Homo sapiens: one gene and its partner. The protein of the gene in region 2 purifies or fractionates together with the protein of the main gene of each other region. This does not show direct contact. Each region holds a gene or a part of one and is shown on either strand. Other genes may lie near its edges.

Region 1 (7,495 bases), on a different chromosome or scaffold from region 2:
CCCCTAGGTGCCCCCTGACACACCAAGTGAGACCTGCTTGAGATGCCAACACCACCAGCTCACACCTGAGATCTGTGTTCCTTTATTCCAACAGCCTGCCCTTAGCCAGCTGCCTGCCCAGCCCAGGCTCCTGCGTCCTGGGCCCCCACCCGTGCCACGTCTTGATTTGTGGAAGGGAAGGGTGAGTGGCCCATGAGGCTAGGAGAGGCCCAGAGAAGCTGTCTGTCACCCAGGCTGGCAATGATCAGTGGCAGACATGCAGAGACACCCACCGCTGGAGGCCCAAGAGCTGCCCCGCCCCCAGGCCCCTCCCACCCTGGGCAGTCCCCCTGCTGTGCCCCCCAGCCCACCCCCACCCCCCCGCAGCAGCTTGCCCGCCCTCACCTGCTGGCCTCCCTCTGGGTCCCTGAGCATCTCTGCTTCAGTGACAGACAGATGGCTAAGGCTCTGGTCGCTGTGGCAGCCGCGTGTGTACAGGTGGATCTAAAACAGGTAGTGCAGACCCCAGGCTGAGTGGCAGTCAAGCACCTCCCCCAACGCTGAGTCTCCATGAGTCCAGGGAGGTCGGCCATCAGAGCCCACCTCCCAGATGAGGAAAGAGGGCTCAGAGAAAGCCACTCCTTGCCTGAGGTTGGCGGGGCTGGGCTGGGTGCAGAACAACCATCAGCACCGCTGGGGTCTCCTGCAAGGGGGCGCCAGGCAATTTCACTGATGGCCTCCCCACCCCGCCCAGCTTCCAAGCAGCAGCAAGATTGGAGTGGGGTGCCCTGGCTTCCCCAGCAGCATCGGGGGAGGAACAGCCTCTGGACAGGCACAGCAGTTCAGCCAGGCTCACAGTGGGGACATGAACGACTGCTTGGATCTAGGGAAATGGGGAAGGCTCCCCAAAAAAGGGAGGCTGGAAGGTGGCACAGAGGGTCACAGGTAGGCACATAAGTAAGCGGAGCAGCTGGTGCCAAGGCCAGGCCCGACGGGGTGAGAGGTCCCTGGAAAGGCCAGCTGAGCAACAGACCCTCTGCAAGGGTGGGATGGGGGGGTCTCCAAGGAGTCCCGCGCTGGTGGGAGCCCGCCGCTGCCACAGACCCACCTGTCAGCGCTGGCCTCACAGTGGACACACCACTGGGTACCTGTGCCCCTGAGCCAGCCCCTGCCACCTTCAGGACCCCACAGGAGCTGTCCACCCCGCAAGTCAGCCCCCACCAGGATGTGGTGGCAACAGGAGCTGTCTTCCTCCCCCTCCAGTGCCCAGGAGGGAGTGGCTTTCATGGCACAGACCCCATCCCACTGTTCACAGAGCTGGAAGTCCACTGGTAACTTTTGGGAACAGAAAGGCAAATTCTGTGAGCTCTCTGACACCCGTTTCTGCCCACCATTGCCCACCCCACTGGGCTCCCTGCCCAGCCCTGCCCCCTACAAGGACCACCGGGAACCACGGGCTCAGGCTTTGGGTAAGCCAGGGCAGGAAGGCCCACATCCAGCCAAAAGCCTGTGCCAGGCCTCACGGGACGGGCTGCAGGGACTGGCAGCTGGCGGCCTGCAGCACGGGACACAGCCCCTGAGTGGAAGCCCTGTGCCAGCTCTACCTTGCTCAGGAGGGCGCACTGCTCCTGCTGACTGGACACCAGCTGGCGCCACCGGAACCGCAGCTTTCCCATCAGCCACTGCACATGGCGGACATCCACAGGACCCTCTGCTTCCATGTGGGGTGCAGGTGGGCCAGGGCTGGCCAGGGCCTCACACTGGAGAGGGGCAAGGGTCAGGCCCTGCTCCCACCCCACCCTGCCCCCCAGAAAAGGCCAGGATGGAGACGGTAGTGGAGGCACAGCCAAAAACAACGGGTGCTCCCTGCACAGGGAGCCTCCGTGCTTTCAGCTGGGCAGCTGGGTAACCCTTCATGGGACTGCCCTGAGGAGCAAAGCAGACAGAGGGGGCTGACCCAGGCCTGCCCTTGCTCTGGCCCCAGGAGTTGAGACCAGGGCTGGCTCAGCTCACCCTCACCCACACGCACCTGGCACACAGTCATCTCGTCACCCAGAGGCACTCGGGCCTGGGCCAGCATCTGCTCGGGCACAGGTCCTCGGGCCAAGAGCCAGGACAGAGCCAGCAGCAGCTCCCGACTGCCCTGCGAGCCATCCTCAGGTAGTTGTGCCAGTGCCAGCCTCGGGTAGCCCTGGGAGCATAGTGCTGACTTCACCAAGCGGGCTTGGACCTCTAGGACAGAAGACCACCACCTTAGGGGGACCACCCACCTGGAGGTGACACCACCTGGATCCCTCCAGAGACCCCCACAGGTCACTTGAGCAGAAGCTCAAGGCCTAGTTCAGAAGAGATGATAGTGGGAGAGCTAGAACTCAGACCAGGATGAGGAGACCAGGGGCCAACAGGGACGTCCCCAGGGCTTTGTAGGAGCAGAAGCCAGTGCTACCCAAGGGGGTGGAGCTAGGGCCCATCAGGGGGCGTGGCTTACCGGGGAAGGCGGAGTTTTGAGGAGCAAGCGGGGTCAGTGTTGGGTGGGGGCTAGAGCCTGCCGGGGCGGGGCTTACTGGGGAAGGCGGGGCTTTACAGGAGTAGGCGGGGCCAGTGCTACCGGGTGGGCGGGGCCAGGAGCGGGGCTTACCCAGGGCGAGCGATGCCAAGGCGTTGCCCGCAGGGAGTGGCGAGAGCACACGGAAGAGGAGCTGCCAGAGCGCGGAGGTCTGCGGAAAATAAAAAGCGGGCGGTCAGCGGAGCCGGCCCAACTCCCTGCGAGGGCCCGGGACCCCACCCGGCCCGCCTGCCCTCCGCGAGAGCGTCACCGCCTCCGGACGGTCGAACTTGGCGCGGCGGAAGATCTCGGGGCTGGGTCCCGAGGGCAGCGACCGACTCAACGCGGCGATGGCCTCAGGCAGGGCCCCGGCCCGGGCCCCAGCCGCGGGGTCCACCCGCTGCCGCCGCCTCCCCATGCAGCCAGCACCAGCCTCTTTCGGATCGCCCGCCTCCGCCGCGGCCCGGGGCCTGCGTCCAATCACCGCACGGGCCGGGTTTAGTGCGGCGGCTGGGACCTGCGCCCAGTTACCGCTCCGGCTGGAACCTGAGCCCAATCATGGCACGGGCCGGGTCCAGCGCCCAATCACCGCGCCGGCTGGGACCTGCGCCCAATCACCGCGCTGGCCGAGACCTGTACCCAATCACCGCGCTCCCGAGACCTGTACCCAATCACCGCGCTGGCCGGACATGCATCCAATCACTGCGTCGGCAGGGTCCCGCCTTCGTGTCCAAGCCCAATGAACGGTTCCCCTGGAGTTTGAGTGTAGTCTATTCTGTCTCGTGCGGACCCACTTCCGGGCTCCTGGCAGGGCTGTTGATATGGAGAACACCGCAGAGTCCGCCCTTGCAGGCTCAATCGTCACGACACCCGACACCCCGCCTCGCTCAGACCCCACCCATCAGCGCCTCACGCCCCTTGGCAACCTAGCAACCGCCGGGCGGGAGCGCGCAGACTCCGGAAGGCGCCCTGTGGGGCCGCTTACGCAGTCGGAGCGGACGAGCCTCGCCCCATCGCGCCGCCTTCCAGGCTGGGCCGCCAGGAGGCGCCCAGAGCCCGCCGCGCCGCACAGCGCAGACCCCAGCGCGGCCGGCCCCTGGCCCCTGGCGCGAAGTCCCGGGCAGCTCCCCCGCCCCGAACGCGCAGCCGGAGCCCGCGGCAGCCTCCTCAGGCGCTCCCGATCCTCGCCCGCCCGCGGCAGCGCTTCCCTCTGCCGCCGCCACGGAGCAGCCCCGGAGGAAGCCGGCGCATGGAAGCAGCTGCTGCCCGGGCGCCGCTGAGCCGGGCCCGCCTGCACGGGCGGCCCCGAAAGACGCGGGCCGGGAGGAACGTGGGGCTGTCTGCGGGGATGGAAGGTCGGGCTGGCTTCTGGCCAGCGGCGCCTCCGGGCATTCGTGAAGACCCCGGGCAGCGTGTCACCGGGGCTGTTCCCGCGATGCCCCTGCACCTCCCGGGGCTGCGAGGACGGCGGGAGAGGGAAACTCAGTCCTCCCTGGACCCCCAGCCCTGGCTGGACACGCCCACGAGAGGCGCAGCCCGAGGGGTCCCGGCCCCACCTTTCTTCTCGGCCTCCTTCGCCCCCGACCTCCTCTTCCAGGCGGCCCTCCCGGCCCCGCCTCGGGGCCCCCCCCCCAGCAAGCCCCTCCTCTCCCTCCCCGCACGCCCTCCGTCCTTCCCCGCCCGCAGCCTCCTTCCCTCCGGCGCATCGCGATCTCCTTCACGGCGCCAGTAGGAGGACTGCGCTCCTCACCCCGCCCACGCGGGTTTCTTGAAGCTAAGGGGCCTCCTCCTCGGAGCGCCTACTGCACCTGCCGAGCTACAGGGCGGCGGGAGCCAGGGGGATGGGAGCAGGAGGTGGGGAACCGCGGCGCCACAGAACTTGGCAGGAGGCGTGGGGGAGATGGCGGAGCAGCTCTGCGGCCTTGTTCAGCGCTCTCCCAACCCCCGAGCTTGCGGATTTTTCTCTGCACCAGGTGTCGCTGTCTCAAAGATCTCAGTTCCCTCAGCTCCACCCACCACCGTCCAGCCAGAAACCAGCCTCACCTCAGCACCCCCTGCCCCCATCCCATCAAAAGTGCTGTGGCTCCCAGCTCTTGGAATTCCAGGAATCCCCCAATCACCCCCACACACCCCACCCTGCGGGCCACCCTAGACTGCCCCCACAGCACCTGTCGAGCTGAGCCTGCAGCACACCCACCACAGCCCTAAGGCAGGGCCAGACCCCTGGGCTCTTTTAAACCAGTGGGTGTCCGGAGGGGTGGCCTTCTGCCAAGGCCGGTATCTAAGTAGCCAGTGTGGGGAAGAGGGTCTCTGAAGGTGGCCAGTCAGCAGCGGCTGGCTGAGTTGACAAGGGAGTTTCCAGAAGGCCCCCCAGCCCCTGTGCACGGCCGGTACTCAAGTTCCCCACTGGACGCCGGGCCACTGGGTAAGTCCCTGGGCACAGGGTAGATGGCAGATGAGGACGCACATGGGGCAGTGGTGCCTGGGTCAGGGGCAGAGCAGCCTCATCAGGCCCTTGCAGAAGCTGGGCCTGGCCTGGAGGGGTGGGGAATGAGGACAGGGTTGGGGGGTGGAAAGGAGGAAGGCCAGGAGTTCCCATAACTCCCCCAGAGCCTCTCAGAAAGGGAGCCAGCATGAGCTGATTCACCCTCTGACCCGAGGCCAGCCTCGCCCGCCCCCAGGCCTCTCGGCCTGCTGAGCCTTTGGCTGGTGGCCTGCAAAGCCCCCCTTCCCCACTCCCAGAAGGCCAGGAGGGCTCAGAGGCACTTCTGAGGATCTGGGAGTTGTCGAGGCGGACTCAGAGTGCCAGGGCTGGGTGCGGGCTGTCTAGGGTGGCCTGGACTCACCCTGCACAGGGAGCCCTCGCCTATGAGACCCTGGAACGGCCCCCTGGGGAGGGCAATGGGCAGCAGAAGAGCAGGCGCCGGTGGCAGAGCCTGCTGCCAGGACCCCACTGCAGCTCCCTTGGCACTCCCCAGCACACACGCGCATGTACACACACAGGTTTTCCAAGTGTTCAGGTTTACTGAGAGCATTAGGGGCAACAAGGGAGCCCTGGGCATCTGGGGACAAGGCCTGGCATTTGCCTGGACAGTGGCCCTGCAAGCAGCCAAGGATGGGGTCTCCACCACCTGTGCAGAGAGAGACAGGCACAGACGTGAGTGCAGCGTCCACGGCCTCCTTTGGGGCCCACGAGTGGTCAGGCCTCCCTGGGAGGGGGCATCCCCATCCCGAGGGTGGAACCAGGAGGCAGGATAGGGGGTGGGGTCCTACCTACCTGGTTTACTTGAAAGTGTGGCTCTCGGCTCCGCCCCGCCCAAAGCCTGCAGAGAAGGTGGAAAAAGTCAACAGGCTGGGGTGGAGGAGGCTGTGGGGTGGGGTGGGGTGGGGATGACGGGAGCATACCTTTAGGCCCAAACATGGCTGCGTAGCAGGGGTGGTTGCAGTAGGGTTTGCCTTCGTGCTGCAAAGAGAAGGGCCGTGAGGGGGTGCCATCACCCCTGGCCCCTGCCACCAGGGTGGGTCCCACCTACCTCAGCGTGGCCCCCAGAGGTCAGCGTCTTCCCACATTTCTCGCACTTCAGGCAGGGCCGATGCCAGTCCTTGCCCAGAGAGGTCACCCTCTCGGCTGCAGAGGCACAGACAGGCCCCGGTGAGACGCTGCAGGACGCGGCGCCTACCCACCACTGGCGTACCCGCCTCTTGCAGCCAGCTCTGCCCAAGGCCCTGTGCACTTAGCCCGCATCCGCCCAGCCTGGCAGCCCACCCTAAGGTCTCAGCACCCTCCATGAGGGGAACATCTCCAATCCCCAGAGCCAATACAACTAAACAAAGCGCGGGGTCGCTGGTCCCCGGGGCACTTTCGGGTGCGGCCGGGAATCTTGCTCCTGAAGGCTGGGTGGGGCTAGAGGGCGAGGCCGAGGGTCAGGGGTCGCGGCTTAGGTCAGCAGGGCCTGGGCCTGGCTGCCTGCTTTCAGCCCCGGGCCTCTGCGGTGGCAAGGGTGGAGCCTGCGACAGCCCTTCTCGGCGGGGACAGGGGTGACTTCCCACTTCCTCCCTCCCCTCGGGGCGCGCGGGCGCGGGGCAGGGAGGCGGGCGCCCGGGATCGCGCCCCGGGCGTCGGTTTCCGCGTCTGTTTCCACTTAGCGCTGGGGGGCGCGGCCCCAGCCCCGCGTTCCTTCCAGCCCTGCGGGTCCCCCACTCAGGGCGCGCCTGAGAGGAAACGGCAGAGACCGTAGGACCCAGAGACGGGGAGGCTCAGAGCCAGAGGTAGCCCGCCGAGCACAGCAAGACCACTAGCAGGCAGAGATCGCCAGGGCCCTCGGACGCAGGGGCCTCCACCCTCATCCCGGGGCAGGCGGCGGGCCAGGCTGAGGCGTTTTCAGGCTGGGGCGCCGCCCCAGGGACCCAGCGCCCCCGGTCCTCCTGAGCGGTCCCCAGCCTCGTCGCCCCGTCGGCGGCGCCTCCTCGCGGGGCCGGTGTGGGCGCGCTCACCGAAGTACACCTCCTTGTTGCACTTGGGACACTTGGGCATGACGGCTCCGGGTCCGGTGCAGGCGGCAGCGGCTGGGGCGGCACGGGCTGCAGGCGCGAGACTGGGTGGATCCGGCCTGGTCCGCGCCTTTCAGGGACCCCGGGACCCCGCCCCTTGGAGACCCCGCCCCTCGCGCCCCGCCCTCTGAACCCAGGACTTGGACCCTGGGGACCTCGAATCTAGGCCCAGGGCCCAAGAAAGATCATCTGGTCCACCCCCGCCTTCAGGCAGGACCCGGGCCTGACTGAGGACGGAGCGCGGGGGGGCAGGGGGCCATGGGGACTTACTGAGAGGGCGCAGCTCTTTAGGCGAGTTCAAGCCGCGCCCCTAGCCCAGCGCTGTGATGTCTCCCGGGTCCAGTTCCGAGGCAAAAGGCTCACCCGCAGCAGGAAACGCCGCTCCCACCCCCAGCCCTACCCCACCGGCACCCGCCCGAA
Region 2 (8,559 bases):
AGTATGGGCTTTTCCCCCTAATGTGTTAGGTGGACACAAATGTCTGCTTAGTTATATTTATATTAAATGTGGCTTAGTAATTTTTTTCTACTTTGAAAAGTTTAAAGTTTTATTCTCATGATAGTTACTGAGAATAGTTATTTAAAAAATACATGTAATATAAGAATCCAAGCATATGTATCTTACTCGTGCTTTTAAAGAACATATTTTTCCCTTGGAAATACTTCCACCATCACCAACCACTCTGAAAGATAAAAAAATGAGAAATGGTCATAAGATCTTCCATGGCTAATAGCACTATCAGGTGATAAAGTTAACTTCCATTTATATAATAAGACTGCTTATAGGCCAGGTAAGGCAGACACAACAGCTATTCCTAATCTCTTTCTTCCTTGCTTACCTCCCATTAGGCTGAAAAAGTGAGGTACTTAGTTTCCTGGCTTTCTTTGTAGTTAGGGCTGGCCATGTAATCCAGTTCTAGCCAATGAGATAAAGGGGAAGTATTCTGGGAAGCTTTTAAAGAAGGACCAGATGCAGTTGGTGCCTATCTTCTTTCTTTTTCCTGCCTCAAACTTGAATATGGATGTGATTCCTGGAGAAGACTGCCATTTTATAGTCATGAAGTAATAATACAAGTACAAAAAGCCAACACACTTATGGACAGTGGAACATATATAGTATTAGATCTTTGAGGCATTCCTTTAAACCTAGAACATCTGATTTGCAGATTTGTGAGATAAATGAATACCTTTACTGCCTCAGCCACCATTAATGTAGTTTTCTATTGCAGTTAACACCCATCAACTGATATAACTGGTATTTACCATTGAGTATCTAAGGTTGTTCTCAGAATTTCACGTTGGAAATAAGTTGCCAAAGTACTAAAATCTAACGCAGTATATGGGTCAATAAAGACAGTTCACAAGACGGAATATATGAAGGGTAGCCAATCATCAGGCCAAATTCAACTAGCTGCCTGTTTTCCTAAATAAAATTTTATTCAAATGTGGACACACCCATTCCTTTATGTATTACCTATGCCCACAATCATGCTACAGATCAAGTAGTGGTGCAAAAGACTTTATGGTTCACAAAACCTAAAATATTTACTGCCTGGTCCTTTACAGAAAATATATGCATGCCAACCCATGCTGTAGGTAAATTCCTATCATGCTACTCAAAAGGTATAAAAATTTGATAAGAATAGTACACAAAGATATGGTTTTACTTTGAAAAATATTTTTTGTACTAAGCTGTGGAACAGATGCTGCATGTGTTGATAGTACACAGAAAGAAGTGCAAGATGCCACAACCCTGTTTGCCAAACTTACCGGGAAAATAATAGTGCTCTCAGGTTAAAGTATAAAACACACAGAGTAGATGAGAGTGTAGTTATGAAGAGTCACCTTATGAAGAAAGAAAAGCTCCCAGGCTGAGTCTCAACTATGTAATACTCAATGTAAGCGTTGGGTAACAAGAAGTAAAGAGGTGGGTGTAGGAACTTAGCAAGAGAAGCGCCGGAAAGGAAGTATGACAGAAGCAAATTTGAGTCTCCTAAGAGAATTTAGAGGTGAGGATATTGTGGGCTACAAATAAGAGGGAATCTATAGTCTATATGACAGATATCTCCATAAAATAAATATAAATGATACCAGCCATTAAAGTAACTAACTTCCTTTGGTCTGATTCCATGGTCACCAAGCAACCTTCAGATTATTACACAGCTTTTCAGTTAGATTTCCTACAAAAGATAAAGTAATGTGCCTATGAAAATGAGAATTTGGTCTTTGGTTAACCTGGCTGTACTGGAGAGCACTGAACCCATCTCGAGATGCCAATGACACTTCTGAGTTTGCAAGCCAGTGCCCTAGATAGACTCTGGAATTCACCCAGGAAGCGCGGACTAATCAGCTTTCTCTGAAGATAACTGCTCACACACCCAGCCAACTATTTTAAACTAGAACTGATGTTCCTATTGGATTAAAGCCTGACACGAAGTATGTATTTTTCAGTTTAAGCACAGGACAGTTAGTTTTATGAAGTATTTTGAAAATGCATGAACTTAATGATTTAATATTAAAAGCTTATGGAGATATCCTAAACGGCAACTTAAATTACTCTTCCAGATAAAACATATATGGTACTTACATATACTCTTTATTAAATAAACAAAAACAATCCAACAACTGCTTGTCACCTTTTTAAGTATATTTTTATACTTACAGCATATATGTAAACAATATATTTTTCTTTCAAAAGTTAGTTATTACAGGATGCATTAACAAGATGCCCTCTGGGAAAATTTCAGCTTTCTTTTAATGAAACTTATTTCAAGGTTAAGTTAAAAGAAGTCACACTAAAGGGAAATCTGTTGTCTTCTTCGGGAAAATGATATAAGAATATTAATAATCTAATAGAATAAATATGCTTTCAATAATGAAACAAAAAAACACAACTTCGCAGCTGGCTATTTTTATTGTCCTTTGAAGAATTCTCTCCCAAGCTACTGAAACTTAAAGTATCACACTGTGACAGACTTTAATCCCATCTTACCTGGTGTCCACATTTCTAAAGAAGCTGCTTATTGCCTCATCATAAATTCCTTTCTAAAAAGAAAAACATATGTTAATAGCATTTAGGTTTTGCTTCTCGCCCAAATCAAGTTCTTTCAATTTTAATTACATAATACTGTAATGGCTAGGATGAGACTCTGATAAGAAAAACCAAGTATCACAAAATGCGGAGCCTGACTCTTCCCAATCTCCTTAGAAGAGTAAATGCCAGATCTACAGATAAAAAGTTCAGCAGGGGGTGCTAAAGAAAGGATTTCACCCATAGGACTGTAGGACAGGTCCATCAAATGAGCGTTCTCTGGATTCTTCGTAATCTTTTTAAAAGCTGACTGGTTAAATTAAGGAATACAATAACCACACGTGTTATCTATTTTACAAAGTACTTTCCCATATACAAATCTCACTGTTCTGCACACGAACACCAATAAAGAGGAGACCCTGAGAATCAGGAAAAACGTTAAGACTAAGGTCGCTGGCCAGTGTTCTTTTAGTTTAGTGTGTGTCTGACGCAACATGTTTAAAAACCAGTACGTTCTTTACTGGGAAGATCCCATGCATCTTAAACGGGTCAGATGAAAGCTCAAGTCGATTATTTCCTGCGTATGGGCTGGAAGACCTAGCTGACAGGCGAGGGGGCTCGCGGCGGCGGGCGGGTACCTGGTTGACCGCGGCGTGCTCCCTTAGTGCCAGGTCCCAGAAGCAGCAGCCGATCTGGTTTCCGCACTGGCCGACTGCGACCGGAGGAGAGGAAGGAAAGAGAATAGGACATTAAGCAGGAAACATGGCCGCTGGATTCCGCGGCGACCAGGTCTCTACCCGCCCGGCGTAGCTTACCCTGTACGACCACCGACTGGGTCATGGTGGTGCGCCGCCGGCTCCGGGAGCTTGCTAGCCCGCGGCCGCTTCTGCATTCCCCCAGCAACGGCGCTCTGCTAGAGAGCTGCCGTAAGTCACGCTACTGCCGCAAGCCTCTGCCGTCGCTAAGCACGTCTGTAGGTTCAGGCTAAGGTTTTCCGTCAGAAGGCCGCGCAAGTGCACTTGCGTGTCACCGTTACCGTAGCGACTGGGCTTCTGGACTGTATATCCTAGCTGCCTTGTCAACATCTTCGAGCATCGGCAGCTCCGGAGGCCGGGGTAACTGGCAGGTAACTAGGCTTTGGAGTGGTATTTTAAAATATGTGTCGTTAAGCTGTTCGTGGGCTATCAGAGGTTTAATTTTTGTTCACAGCCTCAACACCCGGGGCGGTGGATCAGTCCGTTTATTCAGATTCCACGGGACGCTGCGTTGGCATCTCTGTTCAACAAGCCCTTTATTCTAATAGAAAATGAACAATGGCGTTGAGCAAAGAGAAACCCCAGAGAAATAGTCATGTCAGGGCACAATTGAAACTAGATGGTTATACGCTTTGACAAAAATGGCAAAGCTAAGGTCACAGACCCAACCAGTATTTGTTGAACGCTGTATACTCCCCAAATTAACTTGTAGGCTCGCTGGGAAGATTAGAAAGAAATTAAGGCATAGATCCAGTTCCAAGAAGCTTACAATCTAATTGAAGACATACACGCGAAATACTTAAAGAATTGTGTGGCGTTGACTATAAGTGCAATAGGATTCAGTGGTTGAGGATGTAGATGAGTATGTAGAAGTCTGATAGAAGACACGAGATTAACACTAGGCATTTAGATGGGTATTTAGATGGGATAGGCAGGAGAAGATTAAAAAGTTAGGCATTATGACAATTACCAACTACTTAAAATTGTCAAACATTAAAATATGTAAACTTCTATTGATCAAATTAGACCAGATTTTAATTAAGAACTCAAGTACTTCTTTAATGAAATTAATATTTTCCACAAAAATTCTGAAGAACTACGAAACTCTAAGAAGTCTTCTTTGTTTAATAAAAAGTTATATGGTATGTGCTATGAATATGTGCTAATATGAACTGTAATATTCAATGGATTAGAACACTTTATTGTCCCACCAAGACACGTAGTAGTTACTATTAAATTTCTCTGGTAGCCGGTAGGTTTAAAGTTGCAATGGATTTTATATCTTTTGGTAATAGGCAGCTTTCGGTCAGTAAATTTTTGTAGGCTGGATTTATTCTTAACTTCTTACTGAGTATGGGGTCAGTGGTAGAGGTAAAGTTGGGCATTTTAGGTCTTGATGCTAAAGTCCCAACGTCTGGGGCTTCCAAAATTTGCAAGTCTTGGTCCAGTTTGTAGGCAGTGATGTGAATAGGTCTGTATCAGTGTGTTATCAGTGCTAGGTGAGATGATACACTGGCCTTTGCAGAGCCCTACCCTTCATGCAGTCCCAGTCATTATTCCCCACACAGGAAAGAAAAGTCCTAACACATCTTATTAATAACTTCAGTCTCTAGAGAATCAGACTGAGAGACAGTTCTGCTTAAGAGCCAAGCAAGGTAGAGCCTCACATGCCAGCCACTCCAAAACTTCCGTATATGCAAACCCGGGTGAGCCAAGTTGAGATCGGTTGAACCGCAGCGGGCTATTCAGAATATTATAAGCAAGAGAAATGTTTTTGGTTGAAATTACTGAAATTTTGGGGTGCAGTTTTATTGTAGTGATAGCTGACCAACATACAGAGCAAATAGAGTGAACAGAATTCCACATGCTGAAAATGAAAAAGAAAAAAATTATTGGGAATCCTATGGACTCCTAAAATTGAAGGAAGGAAGACAAGGATGGAAGGGAGAGAGGGAGGGAAGGGGGAGAGGAAGGAAGGAACGATGTAAAAGATGGATAAAGTACAAGACCTTGGGGTAAAACCTAGCCTAAGAGGGGAGAAAAGAAAATTCATCATATCTACTTTGTGCTGAAGAAGAACTTAAGAATATGAATGCAATAAAACAGGAACTTAAAGACAAGATACTAAAATAATAAGACTCAAGCTCTATGAGGGCTGAGTCTTGTTGTTTTATCCACTACTAGGGATAGTACCTTGCATATAGTAGATAGTAAATAAATATTTGATGAATAAATGAAATAAAATGGAGATAAAAGAACTAAGGAAATTAACTGAAGACAACAACATCCACCTTAAAGGACTTAAAGAAATAATTTTTAAAAGCATTTAAGAAGCAGACTAGAGAGATGCACATCAAATTATAATGTAGAGGAAAGTCTTAAAATAATAACAATACTAGGCAAAACCCAGAGATATGAAAGTTATTAAAAATAATATGTATGAAGGAGACAAAGATGGCTCAACATAAGATTAACATGTGCCCACAGCAAATGGAGGAAAAAATGTACTTGATAAAAAAAAAGGAAGAAAAATACATAGATTAAAAGGATACACACTATGTTCTATAGGACAATTTATAGAAAAATCAACACCAAGACATGCAGCCTCATTAAGGCATTCAACTTTTCAGAATAAAGAGAGAATTTTTTAGGTACCTAGGCATGAAATGAACGGGGGAGTGGGATGAAGAAAAAACAATTAATTAGAGTACTTTAGACTCATCTATATAGCACATTCAGTACTGGAAGGCATTGAAAACATGCTGCAAAGTTCTGAAGGGGAATAAAATGTTTTAGAAGAAAATTATTCTGTAGCTTTTGTAAGTTGTCATTAAAATATAATTCAGAGTTGTGGGTGGTCTGTTTTTATTCTTGCTTGCACACCGCCATTTCTGAGCTCATCTCTTTCTCATATAACTTGACAAACAGTAGCAACTGACATGTTATTGTTTTCCAGCCTCTTCTCCCAACATTTAAATTCATTAGTTAAATCACATGCCTTCTAGGTTATCACAGAGTTTTCCAAAGATTTTTCCCAATAGGTTTGTTCCTGGGTGACATAGATCACTATCCTTTTAGCTTTCCACAACAGTTTCCTTGTTAATTGCTGCTTGACCACTTAGGTATGGTGACTTATATTTTAGATTTTTGTTATAGCGGTACCTAAGTCTGGACCAAAGTCTGTATACATCAGCATAAACTTTGTTGTGCTGTGGTAACAATCAACCCCAAAATCTCAGTGGTGTAAAACAACAATTTTTTTTTTGTACATGATACATGTCCATTGAGGGGTGTCTGGGGGCTATGCTTTATGTTATCCCCCTTCTGGCACTCAGGCTGATGATCTGCCATTATTTGGTCCATTTTTGATTTGTTTGATTTTAAATTGATTAATTATTGTGTATATTAATGGGGTACAGTTGATTTTTTGATAAATATTTACATTGTGGAATGATTAAATCAATCTGATTAACATATCCATCATTTCACATACTCAGAATTTTTTTGTGATGAGAACATTTAAAATCTGCTCTTTTAGCAGTTCTGAAATATATATTATTAATAACTAGTCACCATGCTATGTAATAGATCTATAAAACTTATTCCTCCTAACTGAAACTTATTGTATCCGTTGGACATCTTTCTGATCTCTATCCCTGTCCCACCCTCCAGCTTTGCTACCCTCTGGTAACCACCATTCTACTCTCTACTTTTATGAGCTTGACTTTTTTAGATTCCACATCTAAGTGGAGTGTTTCTCTTTCTGTGGCTGGCTAATATCACTTAGCATAATGTCCTCCAGGTTTATCCATGTTGTCACAAATGACGGCATTTTCTTCTTTTTTAAGGCTGAATAGTATTCCATTGTGTATATATACCACATTTTCTTTATCTGTTTCTTTATTTGTTAGAGAGTATGCAAAAACAAAGCTCTGAAAATCTTTAAGGAGTTCCTCATGAGCCTAAACTGAGTGCTGATCCTTGCATGGATTCATGGAAACTATGTAAGACTGAGGAAAGAACCACTGGAAATAAGCGGGCAGAACAATTCCTAGGGTTCACATAGGGCTAGGACTAATTCACATTCCCCGTATCTTGAGTGGAGAAACCTTAAAATAGCTGGAACATTGAGTTGAGTACTCAGAAAGGTACCTCAGTAGTGAAGAAAAGTTAGCCCTGGATGAAAGGCTGTTGTAATCTAGCTTAAGAGAGCATGAAACCAAGCCTCCAAAGAACCAGGCTGTTTCCAAATAGCTGTGTCCCAGAACAAAACTTAAAAATACTTAGAGGAATAAAAATAAAATTGTTTAGCAATGTAAAATCACAATGCCTGGCACCCAAGTCAAAAATTGCCAGATATGCAAAGATGAGTCCCATAATGAGGTGAAAAATTAGTTAAAAACAGAACAAGAAATGGCACAAATGAAAGAATTAGTAAACATAATAATTACATAAAATTAAAAGAACATTAAAGCAGTATATGTTCAAGAGGACAGAAGGAAGCCCAGGCAGACTGAGAAGGGACAAAGAAATATGAAAAAGAGATCCCAATTAGACTTCTAGAGATGAAAAGTACAATATCTAAGGTGAAAAATGGATGGAATAAAGAGCAGATTAGACATTAGGCAAAAGAAAAGATTAGCAAACTTAAAGATGTAGCAATGGAAACTGTGCAAAATAAAACAGAGAACAAAAAGATTTTTTTAAAAAGGAGAACTAGTGCACTGTGGGACAACTTTCAACAGTGTAATATACATGTAACTGGCATGCCAGAGGAGGGAACAAAAAATACTTGAAGAAACAATGCCTAAAAAAATTTCAAATGTGATAAGTATTATGCACCCACAGATCCAAGAAGCTCGGTGAACCTTAGGCACAAGAAACAGAAAGAAACTATGCCAAGTACATTGTAATCAAATTGCTTAATATCAGTGATAAAAAGCAAATATTAAAGCCAGCCAGATAAAAAAGACATATTACATATAGAGGAACAAAGATAAAAAAATCAACAGACTTCTTGTTGGGAACAATGCAAGCTGGAACATAGTGGACCCAAATCTTTAAAGTACCTAAAGAAAACAAAACTGCTAATTGAGAATTCTATACCCAGTTAAAATATTGTTCCACAATGAATATGAAAAAAAGAGATATAAAAGCTAAATTAATTAATCACCAACAGACCAGCACTGTTAAATGAAACATTCAGGCAAAG

The links.
Region 1: the proteins of TUBE1 (region 2) and TEDC1 purify together in Homo sapiens (affinity purification with mass spectrometry; 2 studies listed by BioGRID and IntAct, with this or other methods). This does not show direct contact.

The regions. Positions count from the first base shown.
Region 1 is NC_000014.9:105,486,823-105,494,317, reverse strand, and holds the start of TEDC1 (tubulin epsilon and delta complex protein 1), read right to left. Parts: upstream 3,073-7,495; 5' UTR 2,943-3,072; coding exon 2,796-2,942; intron 2,697-2,795; coding exon 2,618-2,696; intron 2,212-2,617; coding exon 2,009-2,211; intron 1,740-2,008; coding exon 1,584-1,739; intron 484-1,583; coding exon 385-483; intron 1-384. Other genes in the region: CRIP1 (cysteine-rich protein 1), read right to left, coding at 5,807-5,847, 5,930-5,987, 6,058-6,152, 7,019-7,058. UniProt on the Homo sapiens protein: Acts as a positive regulator of ciliary hedgehog signaling. Required for centriole stability. May play a role in counteracting perturbation of actin filaments, such as after treatment with the actin depolymerizing microbial metabolite Chivosazole F.
Region 2 is NC_000006.12:112,084,003-112,092,561, forward strand, and holds the start of TUBE1 (tubulin epsilon chain), read right to left. Parts: upstream 3,481-8,559; 5' UTR 3,433-3,480; coding exon 3,408-3,432; intron 3,305-3,407; coding exon 3,231-3,304; intron 2,607-3,230; coding exon 2,554-2,606; intron 1,742-2,553; exon of another isoform or gene 1,693-1,741; coding exon of another isoform or gene 1,673-1,692; intron 245-1,672; coding exon 187-244; intron 1-186.